Linked DNA regions of Homo sapiens: region 1 is linked to region 2. The links come from fine-mapping of genetic effects on gene expression. Tissue or cell type: tibial nerve. Region 2 holds a variant in brackets; the other region holds the start of a gene. All regions are shown on one strand. Distances are between the middles of the regions.

Evidence for each region.
Region 1: it holds the start of SYNDIG1, and the variant in region 2 is fine-mapped to the expression of SYNDIG1 in tibial nerve (GTEx, PIP 0.97).

The regions. Positions count from the first base shown.
Region 1 is chr20:24,468,404-24,471,304 of GRCh38, forward strand. SYNDIG1 (synapse differentiation inducing 1) reads left to right here and starts at 1,226. Exons shown (of 4, transcript NM_024893.3): 1 at 1,226-1,350.
Region 2 is chr20:24,370,784-24,373,684 of GRCh38, forward strand. No RefSeq gene overlaps it. Among named protein-coding and RNA genes, the nearest start is that of SYNDIG1, 97 kb to the right of the region's middle. The variant A/G (reference allele first, on the strand shown) is at 1,391.

The DNA.
Region 1 (2,901 bases), 98 kb after region 2:
GGATGGAATTCAGGTGATAGTACTGGTTCCACTCATCCGCGCCTCCTTCAAATGCCTCCTTCTGGCACTCTGCATTTCAGCATTCTCTTTGGGCTGCGGAGGCTCCCTAGAAGCCACGTCCCCTGAAAGGAATATAGGAAGGACCTCTTGTTCCTGGCACCACCTTTAACTCCTGCCCCTGCCCACCAGGACACCTGGGCAAGACGCAGCGCAATGGTGGGTTACCAGGCAGGAGGGAGGGCTCTAGGAAGGTTGGGAGCCATGGAACTCTGGAGCTTAACCTTCTCTGACCACCAGTGTACCAGCCTGCGGGTGGCAGGACTGGGGCCTCTGCCTAGTGTTGAAACGGGGGCGCACAGATGCTTTTCTAAATAACTTTTGACCCCCTTTCTGGTAAATCTTTTTTTCAGAGTTGATTCTCTATGAAATCTACACTGCAAACACCACCTCCTCCGCTCCTAGAACGCAGACTGTCTTACCACCGCCCTAGTTTCCTTCCAATTCCAACTGGGGCGGGCCCGCCATGGGCCAACAACAGGCTGGCTCAGGGCTGAGGGGGTCTCTGGAGTCTGAACTCCGCGCCCGCTTGCTCCTCCAGGGCTTAGCTGGTCAGGACTTGAACATTCGCCGGATCCATAAATTGGGTCATTTTTAACCTCAAAACCGAACCGCAGCCTGGGGAGGCCTTTAGGACCGAGGGGAGCCATCCCTTCCTCTAGTCGGGCAGCAAATTCCTGTCCTCCTAGTCCCCCGCAGCTATCCCCCGCCCCCAGCCTCTGTGGCCCTCACATTGTCAGACACTGGCCGCGGGCCACCATCTGGACGCGATCCCCCGCTAGGGCCTCCCTGGTCTGGGCCAAAGTTGGTGGCCACCTTCGCGCGGGCTGCGCCCTCCTTCTCTTCCCTGCCCTCCTCCCCCGGGGCCCGCGCCCGCTGCCTCCAGCACGCGCGTCGGCAGGCTCGGCAAGCGAAGAGGAGCGGCTCGCCCCAGGGCGCCCCTCGCCCAGCCTGCCGGCCAGGCGAGCGCGACGAGAGTCTCCCCGCACCCCTTCCTCTCCCGGGGGCCGAGAGGGTTGGGCTCCGCCCCGGCGCCGCAGCTCCCGACTCCCCGCCGCTCGGGCTGCCGCCGCTGCCCCGCGCCCGGCGCTCGGGGCAGCCGGGGGCGCAGGCGGAGAGCGCAGGGCGGGGAGAGGCGTGGGGAGCAGAGCGGCGCTGAGGGGAGGGCAGAGGAGGAGAGAGCCTGGCAGCGGAGGAGCAGAGGCGGGCGCCGCACCGCCCCGCACGCTCGCTCGCTCGGGAGAGTCGCGGGCGGCCGCTTGGGCGCACTTGCCGGGTCACCTTGTCCCGGAGGTAAGTCCAGACCTCCCGGCCGCGGGGGCGGGCGGAGGGGCCCGCAGTGGGCGGGGTCGCGGCAGGGGCCGCGAGCTGGCGGCGGGAGCTGGAGGCTGCCCTGCGCTGGCGGGTGTCCTAGTCCTGGCTCCGCCTCGGAGCGCGCAGACCCGGCGGCGGCGTGGCGCCCGCGGTAAGTCCGGGTGGTCGCCGCGACGAGACTTGGGAGACACGGGGTCGCAGGGCGGGAGGGGGAGCTGAGCCGGCAGAGAAAATGCCCAGGAAGGGGTCGATGCTGGCCTGGGCTGCACCTTGGTGCCTTGCCACCCCGGGAGACGCGAAGGGGCTGCTGTGCGAATTCGATGGGAGCTGGTGAGACCGAGAACTGAGAGCGTAGCGGAGCCAGGCTGCCCAGCAGGGCCATGAGGGCGCGCGGCGGGCCAAGGCTCTGCGGGTTCGGGCTGCCCCTCGGAGTGACCCGAAGGAGACCAGCCAGGGCTGGTGAGCCGGGCGGCCACGGAGCTGGGGACCTAGGTCTGTTTGGGAGTAGGAAGGGAAACAGACTAATTCTCCGAGCGGAGCGGCAGGCAAGGTGCAAGCGCGCTTGGGATGGGGAATCCCGACGGGCGACCGTGGCGGAAGCAGAGACTCCTGGAGCCTCTTTCCTCTAGCCAGGACAAGACCTGCCTTCAAAAGCTGTCTGGCCCCTGGCAGCCGCGACAGCCTGCAGCCCTGGGAGCCACAGCCCTGGCGCCGAGATGGGAGCGAGCACATACGCTTTTTTGGTTCCAATTTGAATCTCGCTTTTTCCTAGTCGTGATTTCTGCCTCTTCATGTGCACTCTCTGGGCAGTGAGGAGGAAGGAATGGCTCACTGGATGAGTTGGGCACTTTTCTTAGGGAAGGGGCTTTGTCCCTATGCGCTTTTTGCAAGACCCTACTAGAGTGGCTCTGGCAGCCGAGCTTTGAGGAGGCGGCCAGAGGGGCCGCTTGGCGTTTCTGAAAGACGAGAGGAAGGGGTCTTCTGGTAGTCCTGTTTTCCTTTGGGGGTTTCGTTGCACGCAGAGGCTTGGGCGCTTGGCACCCAGACTTCAGGTGCGCACAGTCCTCCTGCGACGTCAGATGCGCTGGCGCCGCGGCGCTCCTGGCTCGGACCGATGCCTGCGCCTTCCCTGGCCACGTCCTGGTGTTTAGTGCAGCAGACACCGGCCGAAGGCTTGGCTGATTGGGGGTGTCGAGGGGAGGGGGGCTGGGCGTTACACAGTGGCTCCGTTTTCTGGTTGGAATCAGTTGGTGAGGCGTGCGCGCGCGAGTCCGTGTATCTGTCCGTCTCCCTCCTACAGCCCAGCGTGTTTGGTCTGAGTCCAAAGAAGGAGGTGGTGTGTGTGCTGCGTAGACCTGCGCCTGTGGGGTGAGCAGCCTCATAGCCCCCAGAGCCGGCCAACTTCTCCGTGCTAGGCTGCGACCTCAAGGGCTGCCGCGTCGGGGATCGGAAGTGGTCTTCAAAGAGGGGTCTAGGTCGCGAAATCCTGGCAGCAGCCGAAGTGAAAAGGAGCTGCTAGGAGGCGGGCGG
Region 2 (2,901 bases):
ATGGCACATCATCTACAGGAGACCGGGGGGCCAAGAATCCCCCACCCAGCAGCTGGCCCAGGGCAGTCCGGGATCATCTGTGCAGTTCCAGGTCCCAGGCTTGCAGGCCATGTTCACACAAAGGCAGGTGAGGGTCTCCAGCAGACTGTAGGGCCAGCTGTCTTGAACGACCAAGTTCACCAGTGAGAGCTTCTTCCTACCATCTTTTGTACTAGTAGCAAAGCCCCGGGAGCCTCCTCTGAAGGGAGGATTCTGGTTCTATGCTGGGAGCATCCTCTGGAGCATGGATTCTGGTTCAATGTTGGCCGCTCACTGGGAACAGAGCCCAGGCCAAGCCAAGTTATTGAGTTCAGTTACTCACTCCTTTGGCAGGGGTGGGAACGGGAGCACAGGTCCACTTAGATCTTATTGCCTGACTCAAGTGTTTAAAGTAATCCATGGCCCTCATCTTGGTGCTTGAGGCCCTGCAGGGAGGCTGATGATGAATGAGGCTGTTGGCTAAAGTGAAATGGGGTTAGAGGCAGAGCCCAGTTCCATGCCCTGAGACTCCTGGAGATAAGCAGGGGCCCTCTTTGATCACTGAAGCACCTGCCAGAACAGGAGAGCTGTTGCCCTCTGGGTTAAAATCCCCATGTTGGGCAGCAGCAGAGCCTCACAGTTGGGTCACTCTAACAGGGAGGGACGTGCAGACAGTCCTGAGGAGGGGAGGTGCTCAGGCCTTGTAGGTCTGGCCTTGAGGCCTGTCGGGTGCTGGGTGTGCAGCTGGGAGGCCATGGATAGATCATCTGGATGGCAGGCAGTGATGTCAGGGCCCACCTTCTGCCTCATGGGCAATGGATGCTTGGGGGCCAGGTGGCTTTGGCCAGACGGTGGACACATCATCTCTGTTTCAGGTTCCCCAGAAAAGCAAGGGGGAAACAAGGGCAGCATGTTTGTGCTTTCATACATCTTTTGTTAAGGTGCCCTTTTATCTCAGTAACAACTGTTTTTCCTATTTTCATGTTAAAATATTATTGTTTTATGAACTGAAAATGCAGATAGCTGGTAGGTCACTTTGGTTGAGTCTGATTTAGTTTCTAATGTTATTGCTTAGCAAAATAACAAGCTGAAAACTACAGATAGACCCAGATTTATGGGACTTGAAGTTTCTCCAATATGGGTATCCTCTTAAGAAAAAGACTATCTGTTTAGAGTGAGAAGAGAAATCACAGCTCATACATTTTAAAAGCCAGCAGATGCTACAAACATCACAAATTCTGGGAAAATGCCACATTTCTATGAACCAGCTGCCCGACAGCCATTCTAACGTACTTCCTTAATGCCTGCCCGCTGGGGCCCTCTCCACCGTCAATGACTTCACAGCATCCTTCTCCACAGAGAAAATGGAAAG[A/G]TGAGTTTGCTGTTTTCTTGACACAGTTGATGAAAAGTTTTTGTCTTATTAATTGGTTTTAAGTGTTTCTTTTAGCTTTATAACTGATAATTGGCAATGTCATATACATTTTAATCTTGTTGCCAAGTTTTAGGAGATGTCTGTCAAATTCCTTATATCTGAGCTGTACAATTTAGGATACTTTTATTTTTCTTATGCAGTAATTAATCTTAAGTAGTTAAGACTCAGCTAAACTTTACCTAATTTAACTAAGTTAAATGTTGTTTACGCTGTTGGCACTCAGCCACTTTGTCATTAGTGACCCTGTGGGTATGGGTTTTTCTTTTACTTTATGGTTTTTCACTCTGAAATTAGTGTTTCTGACAGTTGGAATCCCAGATGATCCTGAGTGGCTGACGCGGACGGAGGTGTTGTCTGGAATATGGAGTCATCTTTCTATGGTGTCCCTCAAGACATGCTGGGATTTAGGGATTTCAACAGCATTCTTCTCTCTAGCCTCAAAGCAGTGGAACATTGTAGGCAAACATGTTTGGAGTTTGTGAATAACTCTCAGAGCTGATATATGTCTTCATTTTCACAATGGAACATAAAGTGATGAATCCTAACTAGAGAACAAAGCCAAAAGATAGACACCACTGAAAACGTTTCTCACGAGTCCGTGGTCCTGCAGCAGTGCTGCTGGGAGTCTGGCTTTCAAGACGCTGCTGTAATCACTACAGGGGAAAGCCTGTAATGATTCAATCACACAGAGTAAAAATACACTTTCAGTTGGTGTAACATTGCATTAGTTCTACTTCTACAGAGTCTCCTTAATCACTTGTATTTAAAACAGAAGTTACCAGAGGCCAACGTATGACAGGCCGCAGAAGGCCACTTGCACATCCCAGCTTCGCTTACACAAACAGATGCCCTTCTAGAAGGATCATCTTGCCCTGCAGGGAAGATGATTGTCACATCTCCACAGCACATCACATTTTCCATGTGGAAAACATTCAGGTGTACTTTGATCTAATGAAAATCAGAGTCGACATTCTGCTTCACAGTGGCAGCTGGGAGAGCCATGCTGGAAACCAACTGCTGTTCTCCAAGGAACATGCTCCACTAACCCCTGGGGCCAAGACCAACTGGCATGGAGTGCCTGTGGCTCTGAAAAGGCTTCTCATCTAAAACTTCTGTAAGTGGAATAGGGCCATTGCCCAATGCACAAGGGAAGTCAATATGCTGAGACACCAGGCTGCAGCAGAGAAAGAGGTTTAATTACAGGGCTGCCGAATGAGGAGATGGGAGGAAACATCAAATCCGTCTCCCTGAAGAGTCTGGGGCTAAGGATTTTAAGGGTTTTAGATGGAGCCAAAGTGTGGAGACGGTTGATTGGTTAAGAGTGCAGGGTTATGGGACAGAGGAAAAAAAACTGTATTCTCATGCTGATCCCATTCCTTTGTAGGGGTCTTCAAACTGCTTGGTGTCAACTGGAATTCAGGATCTGAAAAACATTTCATGCATTTCTTAAA